Regions from separate parts of the Homo sapiens genome. Here region 1 is linked to region 2. The links come from fine-mapping of genetic effects on gene expression. A gene starts in region 2. The other region holds a variant in brackets. All regions are shown on one strand. Distances are from middle to middle. Region 1 overlaps NECAB1 (N-terminal EF-hand calcium binding protein 1). Region 2 holds the start of PIP4P2 (phosphatidylinositol-4,5-bisphosphate 4-phosphatase 2).

The links.
Region 1: its variant is fine-mapped to the expression of PIP4P2 in fibroblasts (GTEx, PIP above 0.99).

Annotation. Positions count from the first base shown.
Region 1 is chr8:90,898,369-90,911,028 of GRCh38, forward strand. All of the region lies in intron 5 of NECAB1 (N-terminal EF-hand calcium binding protein 1), which reads left to right. All of the region lies in intron 1 of LOC105375634 (a long non-coding RNA gene), which reads right to left. Among named protein-coding and RNA genes, the nearest start is that of C8orf88, 81 kb to the right of the region's middle. The variant G/C (reference allele first, on the strand shown) is at 6,002.
Region 2 is chr8:91,035,384-91,048,043 of GRCh38, forward strand. It overlaps PIP4P2 (phosphatidylinositol-4,5-bisphosphate 4-phosphatase 2), which reads right to left and starts at 5,476. Exons shown (of 7, transcript NM_018710.3): 1 at 5,261-5,476. The coding sequence starts at 5,366. RefSeq lists a silencer at 5,498-5,697.

The DNA of each region.
Region 1 (12,660 bases), 140 kb before region 2:
TAAATCAATATTGTCCCATTTCACTGAGATTAGACATCATATTAACTATTTGGGAATCTGTAAAACCACAGGACCCTAAAAAATTAACACATTTGATATTTGGGGCCACCTAGAACTGACAGTCTCCAGAAGGCCTAAAACTTCAACAGAAGTAGCAGCTCCAAGTGAGTTTGAAGCCTAGTTGCTGCTTGGACTGTGCTTCCTATTCCAATACCCCTGTCTTCTTCTCTTGCCTGGCTCATTGCATCTTCTATAATGCCCAGTATCTCATACCCATCTGTCCTTTTCACACTTAATTCAGTGTTTATTGAGAAAGAGACAGCTACTATTTATTGAGCATAATACATGTTGACCACAGTGCATACATTATCTCAATTAGTCTTTTAGCCCAACTGCACTGAGTCACTCTCACAGTCAGGCACCTGGTACATGGTAGGTACACAATCTACTTTCCTCAGCTCTCTCTTCACCTTCCTAATAGTTCATTTGTCTCATCCCAACTGAGATTCGTTCATGTGGCACAAGTATTTATGGAATACTGTGTCTGCTCAAATCCTCTAGAAACAGAAGCCAAGTGCAAGAGATATGTTGGGAGAAATGCCCTTGGAAGGTAAAGGGGAGAGGGAACAAGAGCAGTGGGAAGATCCTTCAGGCTGCCCTGCAGGTCTGGCACCTGTGAAAAGAGGAGGAAATGGAAGTTGGGCTGGCAGAGAGCCTCTGACAAAGTTTTGGCTATGCCAGTGGGACGCCCGAGGGCAAAGACTGCTCATAAGAGGAGTCCCCCCTGACTTACACCATCCTTAGTCCTTGGCAAGGAATACTGGAGAGGATGTGGCTTCAGCATGAACACTGCTGATCCCCAAGGTGTGGCAGCTGGAGATGGGTAGTTAAGCATACTTAAAACAGTTTCTCTCTGTGGTCCCTTGGTGACTGCCATAGTGTATACCAGGATGTGATTTGAGGAACATGGGCAAAAATTCAAGAATCTGTGAAAATTCAGCTTTAAAGATCCACTTCTCTTACTCTCAAAGGTTTTTCAGTCTTTAAGAGTCTAGTCTTTACAAGTTTTTAAAAGTAAATATCCCTGGGAATAGAAAGATCTAAAGTCCTAGTTACTGAATAACTTAGCAGAGGGTAGTTAAAAGCTCACTAAAAGTAAAGAGATGGGACCCAAAATTTATTTGAGCTGGAGCAAGTTTAGAAACTCTGGAACAGAGAGATGTGCAGAAAGAAATAGTGATGAACCAAAAACCAATTCCCTAGGTTTAGCTTTGCCATAGTTTAAAATATGTTGATGCTCAAATCTTGTCCCTCATGTGTGTGATATTGTACAGTACATTTGATTTTTGTATGTGTTTATTATACCTTTGATTCAGAAAGGTTTACAATGCTTCCTTCTTTGTCATAAGAAACTCATAATTCAGGTGGGTGCTTGTTTCTTATACCAGCATGAAGCTAAACATAATAGTTTGAAACTATTGAAAATATTGAAACAGAATAGTTCTGAAAATATTATTTTCAGAATATTCTGGGACCTTAACTGCACAGTATGTAGGAAGAAAGGAAACATTCCTTCCTCCCTACAGTCTGATACACTAGTGAGAATAATAAGCATTACTAAAACAACAATGAGCACTCAATGGGGAGCCTTGAAGAGTACCTTAGTGTTTAATACAGTGCTGTAAAGGCATGAACCTTTCCCCTGCCTTTCTCTATGAGTAAACTTAGTGTTGCTGCATTTTCCTTATTAGAATTATTTTCATTTCATTAGTAAAATAGGCAGTTGTTCGGGAGTAGAGCAACTGACCTTAGTCTTTATATACCAATATGGGATGATTCAAGGGTCATGTGAAATGTCAAGCTACACACAACAGAACAAGCATAATTCTGTGTACTCTGAATCTTCCCACATTGATCACTTTTGAGGCCAGAAAGTAACAACAGAAGGGTAGAGTAGGCATGACAGAATTGCTTCACCAATGGAACAAAGAGGAAAAATGGTTCTTTTCTTCTTCAACTCTAGATGAACCAGTGAACACAGACTTAGCCAGTTCCAGGATGGAAACTGAGCCCCATGTTCTCATTTCATATATTTGAGAAAACAAACACAAAGGGGTTAGTAGACTTGCCTAAAATCATAGTATGAGTCAATGGCAAAGCCCATAACCCAGTGTAGAATCTTATCCTCTATAAGGGTAGGAAAAGTATTATTCAGAATTGGGTAGAATTAGTTCTTTCCCTTCCAATCACTAAACTGTTAACACAATGCCTCTTGGGAGCATAATTAAGACTATCACTATAACCTTCCAGGTACAGGATTCTTTATCTGTTGCCATGGCAAAGGAGCAAAATCTAAGCCCCTGATTAAAATGAATGCTTTTGTAAGAAATAATCAAGATCCCTGTCAGGGTTTCATCACGCTCTTATACTCTTTGTCATTTTTTTATATGACCCCAAGCCTGGGGCTCAAAGTGCCTACTTGAAATTTCTTTTTGTTGTTTGTATAATAACTGAATTAGTTTTGCTCCAGCAGTTTCTTGATGATTTTTCAGTAAGATAAAGGTACTTTAATCAGTCTAAATACTTGAACATTTTTATTTCAGTGGTAAAAAATAGACTGAGGCAGAGTGAAGTTATAAATTAGAATCTAAAAATTTACCCTTCAACATTAATATTTTTTAGTGCTCTAATATAAAACACAGAAAACCTATCTCAAATATAAAAGATGAATATAAAATTATTAATTAAACAACTGGCAGCCTGGAGATATTCATTCCAGCATAGGCTTTGATAAATCTTTTCCTGAAGGCAGTTAAACCTTTTTGAGAAAAACCTTCTGAGGCTGATATGATTTAAGTCTCTCTGTTAAAAAAAAAAAAAAAATGGTGTTTATAAATTATGCTGCCTTTTTGCTACTCTCAGCTTAAATAGATGATGTTTCCTTTCCTTTTTTAATTGCTGGTTTTCAGCTTTGAAAAGCTTTCCTTCCAGCGGTGCCCTCAAGGGCACAGTTTTATAATCAAGAGCCTTTGACCCTTGTAGCCTCATGAGACTAGAACCCACTGTTTCTCTCCAGGTATGTTTAACACAGACCTGGGAACAATCGAAAAGCTTTTCGTGTTTTGTGCTTTAAACATCTTTTGATAAAATGGTGCAGGAAAATGACACCAGTATTCTAGTCTAGCCGAGGAGAGCTATGTGGTCTTCAGCAAGTCTCCTTAATTTATCTGGCCTTCCTTTTGAAAATGAGCAATTTGTATTCAGTGGTTCCTTCTAGCTCTATGTCTTTAGTGGGTTTGCTGATTGCCTGTGAAATTTGTATAGTACGACCATTTGACCCTGAATTTTGTTTTTCGCTTCAACAGACTATGTATACTCTGTTCTTGTCATTAATTGAATAGTATCGCTCTCTCACACTAACTTGAGCCTTGTAGTTACACACATTTAATGGAGGAATGAGAATGTTCCTTCATTAGCAAACCCTATCTATATTTAGTGTTTGGCTAAAACCTCGTTTGCACTCTCTGTATTTGTGTGTGTGTGTGTGTGTGTGTTAATGTTACATAAGTATTTGTTGAAGCATTTTAATCTATACTGCAAAAGGATGTTTTATTTCCTTCTTTAATGTACTTTGCACAGTTATATTTACAAAGGAATATTCTATAAATAATAGAGGTACTAATCCACATATTTTATTCTTTCTCTTAAAAATAAGAAAAGCCTATTTTTTGAAACTTCTCAGATTGTTCTGTTATGAAACATCACTACTGGCTGGGTGTGGTGGTTCACACCTGTAATCCCAGCACTTTGGGAGGCCGAGGAGGGTGGATCACTTGAGGTCAGGAGTTTGAGACCAGCCTGGACAACAGGGTGAAACCCTGCCTCTAGTAAAAATACAAAAATTAGCCAAGCACAATGGCACATGCCTGTAGTCCCAACTATTCGGGTGGCTGAGGTAGGAGAATCGCTTGAACCCAGGAGGCAGAAGTTGCAGTGAGCCAAGATCCACTGCCACTGCACTCCAGCCTGGGAGACAGAGTGAGACTCTAAAAAAACAAACGAACAAACAATTATTACTATTAAGTTACATACGTAGAAAAGGAGTCAATTGAATTACGTTGTACTTACTAATGCAAAGGGGCTCTCTGTCTCTCTTCATGTGTGTATAACACACACATAAATTATATATATAATGTACCTGTACACACATTTTACAGTTTATATTCTATAAATGTTCAAGTTTATCAATAGTTAAATAAATATAAATTAAATTGACAATAAAACATACTTCTATCAATTAAAAATGTTTAAAATAATAATGCCAATTGTTCAAAAACACAGGAAAATGAAGACTCTTAAACATGATAATGGGACTTTAAATTAGTACTACCTGTAGGAGGGCAAACTTAGTGACCTTCTACCTGTAGGAGGGCAAATGTGAGAAAATATGTCTCACATTTTCAATTTAGGTATTATTCTACCTAGTAATTTCATTTCTAGAACATTAACTCGGAAATAATTTAGTATGTATACAAGGAATATTCACCATATAAATGTTTATACTAAGAAAAATTAGACAACTATCTTTAGTTTATATTCAACAATATGAGATTGATGAATAAATTATAAATATAAAATATACTATTTGGCTATTAAAAACTATATCATATATGAATACAATTGACATGGAAAGATGTATGTATTTTTATGTGCAAATAACTGATTTAAAATGTACATGTAGTTGGTTTTGAAAAAACAATATATTATAGATATTTCAATAGCTTTATTGAGTTATAATTTATATACCATAAAATTAACCAAGTGTAAGCATACAATTAAATATTTTTATTAAATTTATAGAGTTATACAACGACCACTGCAATCCCATTTTAGAACAATTTTTTAAAAATATTTTATGTTGCCAATCTGTATTTTCTAATTTATAACATTGCTACTTCAAAAGTGAAAGTTATTTATATTTTTAATTTAAAATTTTCATACAGCTTTATCTGCAGAAAAAAACATGTCACATATCTTTTCAACCACTTTAGTCTGTAATTGTAGGTTTGTTATAATAAAAGTCAGTAGAGTTTTAAGGTAGTTACTAAAAACAGTTGCTTTTTATTTGTTAATTTTTTCTATGGATCAATGATTACTTACTCATGAACAAAAAAGTCAAAACTTACCTGTTAGCTATCTGACTTTAGGCAGATTACTTTATCTCTTATGACAAGTTTGGGAGGTCCAAATAAATGAATCCATAGAAAATACTTAGCAACTTCTGTTTATAGCAGTTTGGGGGAAGAGATTCTTTCAACAATTCTGTTGCTGAAACAAACTAAAAATAATGGATAGAATATATTTTTACATTTCTGAAATGTATCCAAGCCCTGGCAAGAAAGCAAAGACTTCTCAGAGGCCAAAATGTAAGTGAAAGAGGGAACACAAAGAAATAAGCAGTAGGAAGTGGCTTTAATTCATTGACCTTACATTTCAGTTTTGAAGACTTTCAGCACTGGGGCAAGAGAAAGCGTAGCCACCAGCACCCCGCAAGGTAAGGATTCTGATAACAACCTTCTGCAAAAACTTGGAACCCAAAAGCCTTTACTGTTCCTCGAAAGGAAAGTTACCCCTAGTGATCCAGGGCACCAAATAAACAAAGGGGGAAAGAAGTCTGCCCTGAGAATTTATAACTGCAAGTCAGCCCTCATGTAAATGTGCAGGCCAAATCACTTTCCTGGGTGGAGGGGAAAGCCTCAAGCCAAGAATTTAATTTAAAATTATTCCAAGATGATGGTGCCCCCAGATACTGGACAAAAGCAAAATCAAATTCTCTCTTAATCTAGATCTGGTAAAATTTCCACAGATTAATCCTGCAAGGAATATGTACTGAAAGCAAAAAAAAAAATCTCAAAACATACTTCAGACAGTATTAAAAGACTTTATATATTGAAATCATCAGCTAAATAATAAGTATGTTAATATATTTATATAAATATAT[G/C]TGGGATTAAAAATAGGAGAAATGAGCAAGATATAAAAAAGACAAAACAAATTTGAGAAAGCACAAAAAGATTTGCTAAACATTTAAAAAATACAATAATTGAAATGAAAACATCAGGAAACCAGTTTTACGGTAGATTAAATAGAGTAGAAAAGAGAATTAGTGAACTAGAGGACACAACTGAAGATACCACAGAGAATGTGACTTAGAGAGACAAAGATTTAGAAAATAGAAAAGAAGTTAAGAGACCTAGAAGATTGAGTGGGAAGGTCCAATATACCTCTAAGCAAATTTCCAAAAGAATTAATGAGAAAATTAGCAGAGAAGACAAATAATAAAAAAAATTGTATATCTATAAACCAACAATAGTTAGAACATGTATAGAAACCTAATTTATGATGGATCTGGCAAAAATGTATAGAAATCTTACTTGTGAAAGAGCTGACATGACATATCAGTGCCAAAAAAAATACTGGACTGTTCAATAAATGGTGCTAGAAAAATGACTTATCTATATGAAAACAAAAGAGTTAAATTCTGAATCCATACACAAAAATCAATCCCAGTTTAAGACTTACATGTGTAAAAATTTAAGTTTTAGTATAGAAGAAAATAGTTTAATGACTAGAGTAAGAAGGATTTCTTAAACAAGATGCAAAATATAAACTATACCTTTAGAACATAGTATGGCATAACTTTCACTTTATTAAGTTGTATATCAAAAGACAGCACTTACAAATTGAAAAAACAAACAAACCAAGAGAATTTGCAAAACTTAACTACCAAGGGCTGGTGTTAAAAACATTTAAACAAATGCTATAAATCAATAAGGAAAAATTAGAATACATAATAGCAAATGATTTGGCAAAATACAGGAACAGGAACTTCAGAAAGAAGCCAGGGAAAGTCCAATATAGCTATGAAGAATTACTGAAACTCTTGTTTGCAGAGAGTTGTAATGTGCAGTGTTGGGCAATTGTGACTTATCTTAAGCCAAGTTAGTGCAGTGGTTCAAGAGGTCCGTGCAGATAATTTAGCACTTGTACCCTAGAGTTTAAGTGTCTGGTGGAAGACAGAAGAGCAAGCCTGCACAGTTAATAGCCACAGGTTCATAGGCAGTTGGAACAAGGATTCATACATATTGTTTTAGCTGTGGATTTCAAGAAAGGAGAGAAAGAAAAAAAATTGCAGATTAATTGTTCTATTATTTTCTAAGGTTTTACTATATTGCATCTGGGTGCTAATTTCATCTGTGCTGCTGGGCATCTGCTGTGATTTCTGACTCTGAAGAGTCATACCTTTGTTTAATACTGCAAAATTATCAGCAATTGTCTCTTTTCTGTTCTCTTTGTTCTCCTCTTAGAACTCCTTATATGTAAGTTAAATACTCTCGTTCTCTTCTCTGTCACTTCTATTTCATATTGTTCATCTCTCTGCTTCAGTTTGGATAATTACTTCAGATTAATATTCTAGTTCCTAATTATTCTTCATCTGTATCTAATCTATTTCACATATCCATTGGATGTTTATTTTTTGGAAGTTCTTACTGCCTCTTTTGAAAACTGCCCGGTTTCTTGCAATAGTCTCTCACTCCTTTCTCCTGCTTTTCATTACCCTTTTTATGTCTTTGAACATTTGAAGCATATTATCGCTGACTCTTTTTTATGATACTTTTTTTCTTTGTGTGATATGGATATGTGCGGGTAGATTGGCATTTTTCCACTATTAGTTTATACTTGGCTGATTAAATCATTGGGGATTTGATGTATTTCTTTACGGAGAATATGTTTTTGTTTATGCCAGCTGCCTCAACATACTACCAATACAGAACTGAGGTGAGTTAATCTCTCAGTTTTGGGCTTCCCTGAATATGCAGGTATAGGAGTTCGAACCTCAGACTGCTGAGTGGACTGAATCTTGATTTTAGGTTTTCAGGAGAGAGTTTTGCACCCAGAATTAAGACTGAGAAGACTTATTTGTCATCTTCCTTTGTTCACGCATAGAGTTTTTTTCCCAGCTCTCTTTTAGTAAAAATGTGGTCCTTTGAGTGTTCCAGCTTCAACCCCCTACCTTGACTCATCCTCTGTTCTTCCAAAAGTTGTTAAAATCTGGAACTTAAGAGTCTCCAGTTAAAGAAAATGCCTACAGTAGAGCAAGGCCTTCAATGCAAGATTACTGTCAGTCTCTTTGTCTCCTGTTCATTGTTGACGCTCTTGGTTTTCTCTTATGTTCTTAGAAGCTTTGTTGTACATTCAAATAATATTTGCCACACTTTACCTTTTATAGTGCATTCTATAGAAGGAGTATTTTAGGATACTTAACTAATCCTAATGCCAAAATTGGAACTTTCAGAAATTTTGTTTAATGTAAATATTACCTTCCAATTTATCAATAAGACATTCAGAACTAATTTTAAGTAGTCTGTATAGTCATCTAGAAACCTTTTTCAGAAAGGAGGATGCAGGTAGATTTGAATAATCCACCTTTTCCTTACATATGATATACACATATATATATATATATATATATATATATATATATCTTCTCACTTTATTGCTCTGGCTGGAGTGCAGTGGTGCAAACATGGCTCACTGCAGCCTCGACCTCCTGGACTCAAGCGATCATCCCATCTCAGCCTCCTGAGTAGCTGGGACCACAGGCACATGCCACCATGCCTGGCTAATTTCCCATATCATATATATTTTTAATAATGAAAATTTGAGGGTCTTTACTTCTTATAATCCACCCAATTTTGTGTGTGTGTGTGTGTGTGTGTGTGTGTGAGAGAGAGAGAGAGAGAGAGAGAGAGAGAGAGAGAGAATTAGTAGACTGCATTGTTTTAGCTAGCTAATACTATGAACTCTTGGCTTATTTTTCCAGATGACCATTAAAATTCCAGTTAGCTTCTGAGCCTGTCTAGATACTCCTAAAATGCCAGGAGACCTTGACACAAACTCAATGCTAAGAAAGGCAAGCCCAGGCTATGATTTCAGGCTATAGCCAGTCTCTTATGTTACCCAGTCATTTTCTTGAACATGTGTGAGAAATAGTGCTGTCTTTCAATCCTGATTTCTAAATGTGGGATATAGAACACAATAAAGTTACAGGTACAGACAGATCATCCACACCCCTTGCTTTCAGTCACAGGCCATATTGAAATGTAATAAAAAATACAATGTATTTCACTATTTCTAGGATACATATGTTTCCTTTTTCTGACAGCTATGAAATTGGGATATATCTATCAATTGATGGTGCATAAAAGTTAACTGGTGATATTGTTATTTCCTTGTGGTGTATAAAATACCAAAATAGTGGTGCATCTTATAATTAATGGCACTTTATATTTGATGAAGTACAGTATTTTGGTTTTTAAATCCCACTGGAAAAAAAAGTCTTACCTGTTTGTTATTCTGAGCAAGTTATCTATTCCCAAAGGTTATTTTTTCCTGAATAAAAAATTACCAGAATATTTTGGTATTCTTTCATAGTGAGCCACAAGGGAAAATTAAATCCAGAAATGTGTCAGTTTTCACATATTTATAAACTACTATTTTCCATACACTATGCTGTTTAGAAATGCTCATAATATTTTAATGTTCAATTATTCTTCTGTCACAAAATTTGTTTAGATCAAAAGCAAGGATAATTCGCCTTTGAAAGCACAGAGATCATATATGATATTTTGAAAAATGTATTTGTGTCTGACAAATTTAGTAACTTAGGCCTATTAACTCAACATATTATAGGACTGTGGTTAAAATAGAACTATCCATCTGACACATATACTGTTTAGGAACAGTAACATTACAAATGAGTGTTATCCTTTGAGTATCATTTATGTCAACTTTGTCTCATGTGTATTCCACAAGCTTAAAAATGATATTCAAAGAAAAGTGTGTGAGCAATAAGGTGGAAAGCAGTGTATTTATGGGGAAGAAATTTTGGTGATATTTTATCATCAATATCAACAAACATAAATTGAATCCAATTTATGTACGAACATAGTTCTGTGCTCTTCATACTTAAAAACGTAACATTTGGTTCTACGTTACACTCCAGAAAAATGCATGCTAGCAGTTGAGAAGATGGCATATAAGAGGTGTTAAAAATTACTAATTTGGAAGTGTTTACAGATTTTCTTGTCCTACTGCCTGCCAAAGAGTCCTGTATTTTACAGCCCCTATCTGTCTACTCCACAGCTCCTCAAACATATGAATATAGTATATTTCTACTAGACTGGTTCCTACACATACCTTAACCTTTTTATTGTAAAACAAAACAAAAAGGAAAGCCACACAAATCAAATGTAGAACTTCATGATCATAAGGCAAACACTCTTGAATCCATCACCAAGATTTTAGAAACCTGACCTACCAGTTACCCCAGAAGTCTTTCCACATGCTCTGTCCCAATTATGATTCCTCCTTCCCCTGAAAATAACTACCAATGGATCCTTCTAGTAGTCACTTCCTTGTGTTTTATTATGGTTTTATTACACAGATTTTCATTCCCAGAAACTGTAGTTAAATTGTACTCATTTTCTCTGTATTGCATTTCTTTTAATTTATAGGCTATCTTGCAATCGCTTTTATTTATATATTTTTACAGTTTATCCGTTACAGAGCCCAGAGAGGTGCTTATGCTCATGGTTTAGGCTTTACTGATTGCCAATCATGGTACAAGTAAGCACGTTCTTCTGAACTCTATCTTTGCTAGAAATTGTCAGCTAAATCCAGAGGCTAATTTGACAAAACTATAGTGGATAGTGTGTTCTCCTGTCAAGGATCACATCTTTTAGTTGTTTTTATTTTTGAGGTTGGCAGCCTTTGATACTCAGTGACTGAAATAGTGATCAGCAAACTCCAGCCATTGGCCAAATTCTGCCAGTCATATATTTTATATGGTCTATGAACATAGTCCAACTAATTCAGTTATATCTATGGCTGCTTTCATGTGATCTCTTGTTCACAAAATCTAAAATATTTACTGTCTAGGCCTCTACGAAAAAAAAAAAAATGTTGCCTGGATCTGGTCTAGATCACCAGTATTTATGTTGAAGTCTCCCTGGTTGTTTTGGTTGTCTGCAGCTCATTTTCTAAGATTCCTGAGGAAGGGCTCACAAGAACAATATTACCTGAGTTTTAGCATGTTCACAATTTTCGGGGACCGTTTATACTTAAAAGACAATTTTTCCTGATACAAAATTCTTGGCTCTATTTTAAATATCTTAAAATATGTTACTACGTTTTTTTCTGGAATAAAAGTGTTGGTTTTGGAAAACCTTGTGGTAATCTAGATTTTATTTTGTTTTGTTTTTTACTCCATAAGTCATTTGCTCTATATGTCTCCATGCATGAAGAATTCTTGCTTTGTCAGTCCAGCAATTTTATGAAAATATGTCTTGATGTGTTTGTTCTGAGTCGATATTCTCATACATATGGCATACTTTCAGTGTTTAATATCAAATCATTTTATTTTAGGAAAACATTCTTGAATAATAGTTTCTAGTGTTATTTTCCTTTGTTAGTTTCTATCCTTCCTTAGAAATTCTATTATCAGTATATTGTATATTCTTTGTATATTCAACATTTGTCACTTCCTCTCAAATCCCTTTTATTTGTTTTCTTTGTTATTTTTGATTTTAAAAGCTTTCTTTCCTTTCATTTTCTCTTATTAAGGTATTACATGTAATGTTTATTTGTTTTTATGTTCCTTCTAATTTTGACTTAATTTCGGAAATAATACTTTTCTTCCATTACTAATTCTTTTCTGAATCCTATCACTTCATTTCTGAGTTAATCTAACTCTGATTTATGTTTTTGTTCATTTCTTGAAATCTTTTTCTTAATATCTTCTAGCTTATTTTTAAATACTTGGTTGCACTTGGGTCTGTTTTGTCATCTTGTCTTTCTGGTATGCTTTCATTGTCTGCAGGGATGTTATTGTGCTTCTTATTTTTCTTTTTCTTATTATAACCTTGCATAGGATTTGACCTTAATAATTTTTTGCTGCTTTTAAGAATTCAGTTTTCCTGAATTTTTTCAAAGGAAGTTGTGTTCAAAATTGTTTTTCTAACTTCACAGGGCTTCCTCTTAAGTGGTTTGTCTTATAGTACTGAAAAAATAAGGCAGCTTTTCTTCCAAGGCTTTCTGGCTCTGTTTCTCTCCCCAACTTTTTATCTGAATCTCCCTTTTTATTTCTTGTCTCTGTGACCATCCCTCTCAATTTTGAGTCCACTCCTAGCTAATTCCTCAGTGTAGGTCCCTCCTGACATAGCCCTTGGAGTGACCGATTTTAAGAGTTCACAGGGGCTACACAGTTCCAATCCCTTTAGGACTTACTAAGATTTTTGTGCTCTCTCATTTTTGTACTCAACCACTTTTGGATAAAATGACTGCCAGTTTCAGTTGCTATTCTCAAATTAGCCATTGTTATTCTAGTGAACATTTGTTGGCTACTTTGGAGTTCTCTTGCTCTCAGGTTTGTCTCATAACCCATTGTGTTCCTTTGTTTCTGCCTACACATCCAGCAACACCATGCAATGCATCTCTTGTGGCTGTCAGTGATTTTGTCCTTACCCACCTGCAATTGTAGGTTGATGATGACACCTTGTCATCTAGTTTTGTTGCATTCATTGTCTATTGGAGCTTTTTGTT
Region 2 (12,660 bases):
CTGTCACTAAAGTCCCTAATGATCTCCATGACACTAACTTCAAAAGACATTTTTGGTCCTTACCATCTTTGCTCTTTCTTAAACTTTTGCATGAAGACTCCTTTCTTGAAGTATTTTCTTGCTCTTGACTCTGTGATATTATCATCTCCTGGTTTTTGTCACCTTGCCGGCAGCTACATTCACCTTCCTCTCCCTAGTCATTAAATGTGAAGGTTTTTCAAAGCTTTGTCCAGGCTTTCTCCTTTTCTTAGATTACTCTTTCTCCCTAGGTTATCTCATATGGAGCGCCTCAAAGTTTTTCACACTGTGGTACACAGAGAAAATGACAATATGTGTATGACATCTTAGAACTGGAGGTCGCTGGGCCTGGTGTGGTGGCTCATGCCTGTAATCCTGGCACTTTGGGAGGCCAAGGCAGGCAAATTGCTTGAGCCCAGGAGTTTGACACCAGCCTGGGCAAGCTGGTGAAACCTCATCTCTATAAAAAATACAACAAAATTAGACGAGTGTGGTGGCTACTCAGGAGACTGAGGTGGGAGGATTAGTTGGGCCTGAGAGGTCAAGACTGCAGTGAGCTATGAGTATACCACTGCACTCCGGCCTGAGCAACAGAGTAAGAACCTGTCTCAAGAAAAAAAAAACAAAACCAAAAAAACTGGAGGCCTCTGGCCTGAAGGCTTTAATCACTACCTTAGCACATGTATGTTCCATCACAGCACATCTTATGGTAGGGCCCTGGGAAGTTCTGAATCAACATCCATGTATTTAGCTATCACCAATATGCAAATAACACACAATTTTATATATTCAGCCCAGGCCCCGTTTCTTAGTCCTAAGAAACGAGGACTAAGAAGAGATATGACAACCGGATCTACACTACAGGTCCCATTTTGCCAGAAATGGGATCTGTAGATCCAATTGTCACATCTCTTCTTGGATATTTGAAAGCATCTGAAATACATCATGTCTAAAACTAAGTTCATTATCCGTGTTCCCCAAAACTCGGTCCTCTTCTGGTGTTCTCCGTCTTCTGGTGTTCTGGTAATCACACCATGACGTTGCATAGCCAGAATTCTAGGAGATACCCTTGACACTTCTCCCTCACTTCCATGTGCAATCCATCATCAAGCCCTGTTCAATCCACCTCCTTAACATCATCCTTCATCTCTCCATCTCTACCACCACCTGAGTCCAAGCTACTGAAATAGTTCAGTTAAATTGCCCGAATTATTACAATAATCAAGGAAGTCATCTATTCTTGTCTACTCTAGCCAATCCTCTAATTCATTCTCTAATCTATAGAGTGGTTTAAAAACTAATAATAAAGATTTAATCCAGTCATCCCTTTGCTTATGGCAATATTCCTTAACATGACCAACAATATCCTGGATGGGCTGATTCATATTCATTATTCTGGTCATCTGTTGCTGCAGAACAAGTTGGCCACATGTGGTTGTAGTAAGAATTTGGCTAAGGCTGGAGTCATGTGAAGGCTCAATTGAGCTTGGCATCCAAGATGGCATCTCCCTTCACATGTCTGAGGGCTGGTCAGGCATCTTTCTCTCTACCAGGCTAGTTTCAGGTTCCATAAAGCATGGCAGTCTCAGAGTGTTCCACTTCTTACATGACAAGTTACTTTCCCCAGAGTGTACTTTACAAAAGACCAAGATAAAAGCTGTAAAACCTCTTCTGACCTACCCTCCAAAGTCATTCAGCATATTTTCTACCTTATTCTAGAGGTCAAAATCAAGTCATGGCATCAGCCCAGATTCAAGGGGAGGAAACTGAATATCAGAAGACATAGTTCTTTGAAGGGGAAAGAGAGTCTTCGGAGAATATCCACCATACCTATCTCTCCAGTCCCATTTTGCAGTGCATTTCCTACTGCTGTTTCCATTTTAGCCACGTTGGCCTTCCTTAAGTTCCTTGTATTTGTCATACTCCACCCTGCTGATCACTTTGCCAATACTGCTTTCTTTGCCTATAATGGTCTTCCAGTCCACCTTTTGCCAAGTTAACTCTTGCTCAACTTTCAGATCTCATTCAAGCATCAAGAAAGCCTTCCCCGACTCCCTCAACAAAATTAAATCTTAATTTATACTCTCAAGGTATTGCATATATTTCCAGCACTGTCTTCATCACCATTGCATTTTGCATCTGTTTGTGTGATTACATAATTTATTTCTCAATACCCCCACTACACTGGAAGAGGAGCCATGACTATTTTTCTTCTCCTACCACAGATTTGGCTGGTACTCAAATATTTATTTGCTGAATAATAAACTAAGTAAATCAAACTGTCTGCCTCTGTATAACAAATTATTATTTTCCCTTTATGAATTATAGTGAAGTATATAATCCCATTTCCATATTGAATACATAATGAGACAACCCCAGATATAAACAATTTTCACAGAAAAAATCTTATAAATTCAAAGGTCATATTCTTTTGTTATATCCTAACTACAAAATTAGCAGATGTATAAAGGAATCAATTAATACATCAAAACTGTGTAAATTTTGTGGTATTTCTTCCAATCTCCTTTCAGATGAGCCTAAAACTCTCTTTAATTTTAATTTCTATACCTAAACAAAAACTGGCAAGTATATTAAACGAAGCACTGCAAGCAGGAGAGAAGCAATTTCCTATGCATGAATCCAATACTGACAGTAGAGAACACTAGACATGCTCCACTTAGAAACCAACATGGATTGTTACACAGACCACACATGATTTTTCTTGTGCTAAAACCAAACACACAATACTAACTGCTCCCTGCTACATTATTAATAATCTGTCTAGAAATAAACACTCCACCGACTTTCAACCTGAAATGGACTATTTCATCTTGGAGGTGGGAACTAACATTCCTGTACTTTAGAAGGTAAAAGAAAGAGAAAGGGGTCAGATTGGAGAAAATATTCACTAGTTATAGCTTTTAACTTCTTTTTTTAAAAAAATAAAAGTCTGAATAATTGTAAATGGGATCATTAACTAAAATTCATTATCAGAAAGTGCATTCTGTTTCTGATTGAATTCCAACTGTCAACCCTAACGGTTTTCAACTACCAAAAACATCTGATCTAGTGATAGAATTTTTTTTACAATCTGAAATAATTCAGCCATGTATTTATTTATTCTTTCTCCCTAATACAATATAGTCTTCATGAGGGTATGGGATTGATCACTCTTGTTCCCCTAGAGCAGTGTATGGCACATTGTGCTTCCCAATAAATTAATAAATGAATGAATAGTGGTGGTCTTCCAGATCTTGTGTATTACTCATAATATTTATTACAATGTTTGTTACTTATGAAGAAAAATATTCTGTCAAAATGCAAATAAAATGCTTTTACCTCTCATTTATGCTTCTTCCTTAGTAGGTGTTATGTCATATGAAATTAAGAGTTTCTCTAATCATCTAACCTGTCTCATTCACCAATTAAGAAAAAATGTATTCTACCATAAGGCAGAAGCAGCTTTTTGCTAAGTCATTGAATTTCTCTGGTTGTTAAAAGTTTTCTACAATGACACTACTTTTTCTCAGTGGCTGAACTGGAACTTATACTTGTGTAGTTTGAGGAATCTTATTAGGTTAAACAAATATATGGAAAATAATAAAGATGTCTATAAGCTGATCCCTGAGTGTAGCCATTTTTAAAAAATAACTTATCCACTAGTTGAGGGCATGAAAATAGGTTATAGGACAAATACTTAAATTGAAACTTTGTCTCCTAATAAACCGCCAAACATTTTGCCATAAAAGGCTGACTTGATGAAGTTGAAACATTCATTAGTGAGTGTTTAAGTCTATTCTACATAATACGATTTAGATAACAGTAAAATATTCATATCAAATTGGCCCATTAGAGGAAATTCTCTTGCCTGGTGTCCTCTGATACAAGTTTAATGCTGACCAACAAAAATGACCTGTAGGTTTTCTGTGGGCAAGTCTCTCTCTGTGCCTTATTTCTCAAGCCATGGCTCACACTGAATTATTTACAGCTAAGCATCTTTTTCCTTTGTTTTTCTTCTTGTTAAGTATGGATTAAGATCTAGATAGTTTATTTTGAAGTTACAAAATGTTAAATAGAAATTTTAAATACTAAGCAAGTTCAACCTGCTCTACATCAGCTCTAATTCCAGACTTGAACTTAAAAACTTGTATTACAAGAAACATTACCTACTTATATTTTCAAAATCATTAACTTTTGCTTCCTTGGGTTTTTAAACTTTGCTCATATTTAGCCAAAAAAAGAGAGAGATGCACTTAAGGAACATTTGCAAGTGCCATTTTGACCAATCTTTTCACTAACCTAAGTGGGTTTTTTTAAGTCTTGCCTTCCATTTTCTTGTAACGCCTGACTCCACCTTATTTATTTACTATAGTAATCAACTAAAAGGCTTAGAACAACGATCGATTTTTAAATAAATCGAATAGTATGGTAAATAGATTCCATATTTCTCCAGATCCCATTGCATTTAATCTTTTTTTATTCTTCTTGAGAAAAAAATAGAAATATATGTATTATTAATTTGGGTTACTTTTTACAAGTTAATTTCAATCTCACCCAGATATGTGTTAAAAATATCCCATCTTCCCTTCTATGAGAAGTAAGGTCCTTCCTTCTCATTCACAATTAAATCTAACACATACTCCTTGAAAGTAGGAGTAAAAAGGAGGGGCAGGAATTTCAGACATATTAGGAATATTGATTAACTGTATTCATTTTGGATATGGCAATTCACTGAGTGAACAGAGCACTGTTGGGTGAATGGTAGCAGAAGCATATTGTTCAAGCTAAAGCCCTTTCAAGGACAGATGCCAAGGTGAGCAATACTCCTGGTTTCTCAGCAACGGAAAAAGATTTGTGAATGATTGTGAAAGATTTGCACCACCTCCTAGCTGCGCTTAGGGGCTGTTCTGAAAACAGCTAAGCAGAGCTTGGGAAATTCATGTCACATACTGTAGCCCTGGGTAAGAAGTGGTGAAATACACACACACACCATCACCACCACCACCACCACCACCATCACCACCACCACCACCACCACCATCACCACCACCACCAGAAAAACCCTGCGGAGAAGCTATCAGGCAGGCGGGCTTGCCTGGGAAGGCACAGTCAGCATCCTTCCTCAGCCCAAGCGAGAGGCTCACCTCCACCTCCAAGCTAGAGCTCCCAGGTCTTTATCCTTCTGGGCGTTTCCTTGCAAATCTACTTCCTTGCAAAGTAGAGGGATCTACGCTGGCCTTACCTCTGGGGCTGCTTTCTTGCAAGTACGGTGGGGCGGTGGGAGTGACATTTCCGGAGTGGGATGCTGACAGCAGAGGCGAGCGTTCGTCCACCCCATCAGCAGCCATGACTGCGGCAGCGGCGGGGCCTGGGGAGGCCGAGCCGGGGTTGCGGCCTCGGCGGAGTGGTGGCTACTGCTGCTGCCTCTGCTGCCGCTGCTGCCGCTGCAGCTGCTGCTGCTGCCGCCTCCGGGAGGGCCCGGGATGTGTCACAAGGCAGGAAGCGGGGGGAGGGGAGGGGAGGGTGCAGGACCAGGAGGCGGGGGAAGGGAAGCGCGCTGGGAGGCATGGCTGGGGGAGGGGAGGGGAGGGAGAAAGAAAGAACCCGCAGAGTGGGAGGAGCAGCAGTGGAGGAGCGGGAGCCCAGCCAGCCAGAGAAAAGGGGAACAAATTAGGACCAACTGGGAAACGCGAGGAAAAGAAGATGCCAAGTAACTGAAAGGGGGTCGAGAGTAAATGGGATGGAGGGGGACAAGTCCTTTGCTCTAGGAAAGACGGATAAAAAGCAGCCTGAAAGGGGCTAGCGAAGAGGAAAGGCCTGTGACTTGATTACAAGAAAACTGGAGCAAAAGCAGATTATCAAGTTTATCTCCCCTAAGGAGGAGGAGGGACTGACTCTTTGCTGTCAAACTTTGCAGCAGTTATATAAAGAAAACATCTTCCTGGGGTTATCAATTCCTCTAGGGTTTTTTTGTGGGAAATCAGTTTTCAACATCTGTTATCTAAGAGAAAGTAGATCTTTGCGGAAGTGTCAGCATTCCCTACTTTTCCTGATTGATTTTTTTTAACAACAGGAATGTTGGCCTGACCGGTTTGGAACTCTGGTAACAGTACCTTTTTGGAACTATGCAGTGTGTTGCCTTTTACAAGTTTCATTTTACAAAATAGGTTGTCATCTTAGTTTTGGTTTTGTAGCCTATTGTCCCTGACACATATACAGTAAGTAGGTTTATGAATAACGTCAAACAACGAAAAACAAGTTTCTTGAGACAAAAGTTTTAAAATAATCGTTTACTTGTAAAACAGAGTTAAAACACAAAAAACCCTAAGCACTGACAAAGATTCTTTGCTTGGTCAAACAAGTAAGGTTTCTGAATCTTATGCTGGGCCCATCTGCACTTCCTTATAAAATCCAGTTTTAGCAAAGAACCCTACTAACTTAATTTAGCAAGAAGCCCCATTCTCAATATTGATATTTGATCAGGTTCCTCATCCTCCAGCATCCCCCATGTGAGGCCTGAACTCCTGTTCTGTCTTCAGCAAGAATCCCGTTTGCTTGGTTTAGTCAGAATCCCCCTTATCCCTGATATTTCCTTGGTAATTTTCCATCTACTGCCCCTGTCCTGCATGCTCCTAGGCTATAAATTCCCACTTGTCCATGCTGCATTCAGAATTGAGCCTAATCTCTTCTTCAACATGGCAAGACCCTGCTGCCATGGTCCCTATACCTATCACTATAGCCCTAAATACAGTCTTCCTTACCATGCTTTGACAAGAATCACTGAATAACTTTTTTCTTTAAAAACACAGTTCTTGCCATGTTTTATATGTTTTTCTTTTCTTTTTTATTTGGTGGTTTGTCATATTATCCAAAAGTAGTTTACATGAATATGAAAACAAATTAAAGTTTTGAGGCCAGGCGTGGTGGCTCACGCCTGTAATCCCAGCACTTTGGGAGTCCAAGGCAGGCAGATCACCTGAGGTCAGGAGTTCGAGATCAGCCTAACCAACATGGAGAAACCCCATCTCTACTAAAAATACAAAATTAGCGAGGCGTGCTGGCGCATGCCTGTAATCCCAGCTACTCGGGAGGCCGAGGCAGGAGAATCACTTGAATCCGGGAGGCAGAGGTAGAGGTGAGCTGAGATCGTGCCGTTGCACTCCAGCCTGGGCAACAAGAGTGAAACTCCGTCTCAAAAAAAAAAAAATAAATAAAGTTTTGAACATGTCTAAATAAAAATGCAATAGAAAAATAGTAATGATCTAGGATGATAATTTTTCTGCAATAATTTTTGAGTCACTCAAAAGAAACATTTATTACTCATTTACTAAGTCTAAAAGATAACTACGACATGATCTCAATCCTCAAGATGCCTGAGAGAGTCAAAAACAAGTGGAAAATGAGGCTAGCTGTAGATTTCAGTGAGCATGAGGCAAAGCAGAAGTTAGACATACGAAACTATGTTTCAAATTACATTAGGAAGGATCCTCACTCTGCTTTCTAAAGATACATTCTTTCTTCCAGAAAAATCCACTTAGGCATCAGCTGGAAATCCTAAGGGGAAATCAAATAATGATGTTTGCACTCACGCAGCATCTTTTGTGGATCAGTAGCATCAGGATACAATACAATATAAGGATCCCTATATGATATAAGGGCATTTCTAGGTCTCCAGGAACCTGGAAAGTACAGAATCAAGATGTAGCACTTCCTGCAAAAGTGCCTGTAATTTACAAAAATGAACAGCAGTGTTTTTATAACTGCAGCCTGGAGACTATTGAGTTAAAGAAAATTATGAGAAAAATCAACAAAATCTTACTACTATAGTATTCTGTCGTGTTACCTGTCACACTCCATTGTGACAACTCCAGCCCCAACCAAATTTCTGAGGTCAGAAACCTATCTATCTTATTTATAACTAGATCTCCAGTATCTAGCACAATGCTTGGCACATTAGTAAACACTCGATATTTGTCAAATAAACAATTGAGTGAATGAACAAATATACACAGTCCCAGAATCTTACTAAAACAAAATGTTTGGCACAAAAAGATTAAGAACATTTCTTGGCATTTTGATGAAGATGACAGTTTTGCCATCTGACTGATCAATTTTTTTATTCCATCATACCTCTACAACTGTCTTCTTTTTTGCCCATGTAGTGATCAGTATAAAGGTTTTTTTTTTGTTGTTGTTTGTTTTTTTCTTTACTTCATTATATGGTTTCTCTACTGCAGAACTCATTTGAGGCTCATGACAGTTACTCTTCTTACACTACAAAAGGTAGTAGATATACTGAGATTATATTTGCAGCAATCTCAACTTCCACAAAAAGCAAAAGGCTTTTATGAGATGAGTACTACTTCATTCTAGGTTAAAGATCATACTATGGTTTATGGTTTCTCAATAGTTGTTAAATAATACTCATCAATCCAAGGTATTTTTATGATTATGATTATGATACTTTGCCATCTCTATTCATGAGATGAGCTAATGTGTCTATTGGAATAAAAATACTCTATAAACAGATAATATGTGAGATCTAATGTACTTAAGCTGTTGTTTCAGCGATCTACTGCTAACAAACCATACCAATACTCAGTGGCTTAAAACAACATGAGTTGTTATTTTCTATGATTCTGTAGTTGACTGGGTGGCCATTCTGTCAGACTTGCCTGAACATTCAGGCAGCAGCATTCAGCTGGCAGGTTTGCTGGGGGCTAGGCTCAGCTGGGAAATTTGGGCTCACTGGGCAATTCTCTTCATGTAGTCTTTATTCCAGACTTCCTCATATACCTCGTATTCTCAGAACACTATTCTAAGAGGATGATGGTGGAAGGTAAGGGATCCCTAAGATCTAGGCTCTGGTTCTCAAACATCGCTTCTTATCACATTCTCCCACCATCAATGGCTTTCTCAGCCTGCCTCCTGCTTGGAAAAAAACAAGCACCTAGAGGCCTCGTCATGATCAAAGGAAGTCACAAGGCTGGTGGAGGAACAGATTCCATCACTTCAAGTGAAGAGTAGCAATGTCACAATGCAAAGGGGTGTGGAACACAACAAGGCATGATCCACTGGATGCTATTATATAACAGTCTACCATAGTCTGCCCACTGGTCACTGTGGTTCACATCCCCCTCACAGGCAAACTACACTTATCCACTCCCAACACCCCAAAGTCTAGTTTAATCACTAAAGTCAACTTTATGTATCTTTCACCTAAATCCAATCCAGGTGCAGTCAAAATTCCTGGGGGATAATTCCACAGGTCCAGCTCCTTGGGTACAGCATCTGTTGATCCAGAGACCTGTGAACTAAAAGGACGAAGCATGTGCCCTTCTTCTCTCCCAGCCGTCTCAACCCCCAACATTTAACAGTGGAACAAGAACAGGATAACAACTGACAGAAGAAGGGGGAGGGGGCATTCTGAATAGAAGGTACATAGAACACACGGGACCACAGAATTCTGAAATCCACTTGGGCCCATGTCACCAGCTCTTTTGACCCCAGAGGCATGTAATGCTTCCTTATTAGGGCACAGTCTGCCTCTGTTGCTACTCCTTTTCCTCATCTGTTCCTATATTTGGCTCTTGGCCCTTCCCACTAAGTCTGGTCTTTTTCATAAGAAATGGCTCCTGTTTGCAGCTGCATACCTTTCTCAGCCTGCCTCCCCGCAAAGAAAGTTGGGAACCCAGAGGGCTCTTTCCATTTTGAACTGCCTCTGTCCCTTTTAATCCAAATTGATACAACTTCCTTAGAAATGTGTAGGCCTTTCCAATGAATCTGAATGGGGTTTACCTCATGCCCACAAAGCCACAAACATAATATTTTTTTTGAGACAGGTATTTCTCTATGTTTGGGTCACATTTGAGGCCCTTCAAATTCTTAGATGCTCCCTTGTCTATTTAAGGAAGTCTCCAAGTCACTGCTTGAGTCTTTCAGAGGTCTTCAGGGAGGGTTTTACAGCCATATCCCTGATTTGAACTTTATTCTGAGGCCATTTCTTACATCAAGAATCTGTTGCTGGATGAAAGACTGTCTTAAGCCCCCTATATTTCCTCTAAATTCAGTTGCAAACTGGAAGTTCCTACTTTAGTTCATTTCTGTGGTTGGCAAAATAATGCCTCTCCAAAGATGTCCATGCTCTTATTCCCGGAACCAGTGAATATTTTACCTTACTTAGCAAAACGGATGTTGCAGATATGATTACAGGGTGCAGACCTTCAGATGGGAAGATTATCCTGGATGATCCTTGTGAGCCAAACCTAATTATGAGTCTTTAAAAGCTGAGAACCTTTCTCAGCTGTAGTCAGAGATATTCACAGGAGAGATTTAAAGTGAGAAAAGGACTCAGCCTACCATTGCTGGCCTGAGGATGGAGGAAGAGATCAAGGAGTATGGGTGTGCTCAAGAAGGTGGGAAAGACTTTCAGCTAACAGCAGCAAGGACGTACAAATGTTAGTCCTAGACCACAAGGAAATGGATTCTGCAAACAACCCAAAAGAGCAAAGATATAGATCTTCCCCTAGAACTTCTAGAAAGGGACATAGCCCTGCTGACACCTCGATTTTAGCACTATAAGAGCCATGATAAACTTCTGACTTGCAGAACTATAAAATATAAAATTTGTATTAAGCTGCAAAATTTGTGGTAATTTTTATGGCATCAACAGAAAATGAAAACTTTCTCTTAAAATACCTTATTTAACACAGCTAAAAGAAGCTAGTTGTCGCTTTTAATTTTCTACATGGAAATTAGTGAAATCAACAAGTTCATTAGGAACATTTTCTATTTTCTAAGTTACTACAGGCAACAGTTAATTGGTGCACCTCTGTTTTTCTAGTCTCCAATAGCAATTTCCTCCCTACTCTTCTAGTTTCACATACTCCTCCTTAGTATTGTTCTGTGCCTGGCCCTTAAGACAATGCCATATACTTGGGGTTTTGTTACAGCAATATCAATTTGCTACATTTATCTATTGCTTTGTACTTTCAGTGCCAACTTCTAGTGGATTTATCTGTTGCTTTCTATTTTTAGTACAATATTCTGTTTTATTTATCTATTGCTTTATAAGAATCCACCATCCTAAAACTTAGTGGATCAATTGTCAATGTACTGTATTTTTTTTTTAATAATCATTAGGGTTAATCAGGTAGTTTTCTGCCAAGTCTCACCTGCACCCACTTAGGCCAATGCATTCAGCTGGTGGATCAGCTGGGGACTGATCTCAGCCAAGAAATCTGGTTGGCTGAAACTCTCTTTCCAAATGCAGTTTCATTGTGAGTTTCTTCATTGCATGACAGTCTCGGGGTAGGGTCCTTGGAGGCCAAAGGCAGTTGCTGCAAGCCCTCATAAGTCCAAGGTTTTGGAACACACATGGCTGCATCTGCCACATTCTATTGGTCAGAGAAAGTGACATGGACAGAGTATATTGAAGCAGTCAGGGGGATAAATTCAGTCTCTTGATGGAAGATGTGGCTATGTCACATGCAAAAGGGCACGGATGCAGAAAGGTGTGATTCCTTGGGGGCCTTATATAGTGATCTAGTCCAGCTACAAACATGTCATTTAAGAAAAACATAGAGAATGACAGAGGAGAGATCTGTACGGAACACTATGCTTTTGGAAGGAAGTTTAATATGAAATTCTAAAGTCAATATGAGAAGTATATTTTCCAGCAGACAGAGTAATAATCCTGAGAGAATAAGGCCATATTCAGGAATTTAAAAGGGCACAACATTTTGCAGGAATAATAGAGGAAGGTTGAAGGCTTAACTGTAGTCACAGAAGAGTCCAGGGAGGAAGACAAAGGGCTAGAGCCAGTCAACAGCCCAGAGCAGCAGTAGAGAAGCCTAGTGAAAGTTAAGGTATAGGTGTGGAATAGAACTAGAAGAGATCCTGTTTCCCTGTATTATTTCCAAACACTTCGAGGAAAAGGCAAGACCACATGGTTTCCTCCCAGGTGAGCAGTTCTTCAGTAAGAGGCATCATGGGAGTTCTGTTAGTGTTGATGTTGCAAGAAAACTTAAGAGGTCAAACCTACGGACTTTGTGGTCCTGAGTTCCAACCGTTTGTGTTCTTGCCAATCCTTTAAATACCCATTCAAATGCCAGAGTTGAAATTATGTTCTCCCCTACTATAGTTGCATGACTTTTTTTTTTACCATGATAACAGCATTTTAAAATAGCTTTATTCTATTTGACACATATACATGAGCAGAGACTACTTGTTTCTTTGTAGCATCTAGCACAGCACCACACACATATGTGGTGCTCAGTAAAGGTTTTTTTTTTTTTCAAGTAATTAGTCCTAGGTTGCCTCTTATTGTCTCAGTTTCATCAGCAAAATTGAAGTAGCTGTCCTGCATCTCACAGGATGCTAATAAGAGTAAAATAAAATAAAAGCTCTGCAAACAATTCCAAAAAAGAAAAGAATGGAATACAAAAGAGTGAAATGCAAAGTTCAATAGAGGACATGTAACTTGAAGTTGTATGAAACTTTCCCTGTTATACAAAACATAGCTAGGATCCAAAAATGAGGATGGAACCCCATATACTAAATCAGCAGAACTAGCCCCTCAATAACCACAATTACCTCAGTCCATATAAACAGGAGAATAGGAAGGAGGTAAACGGGAATTAT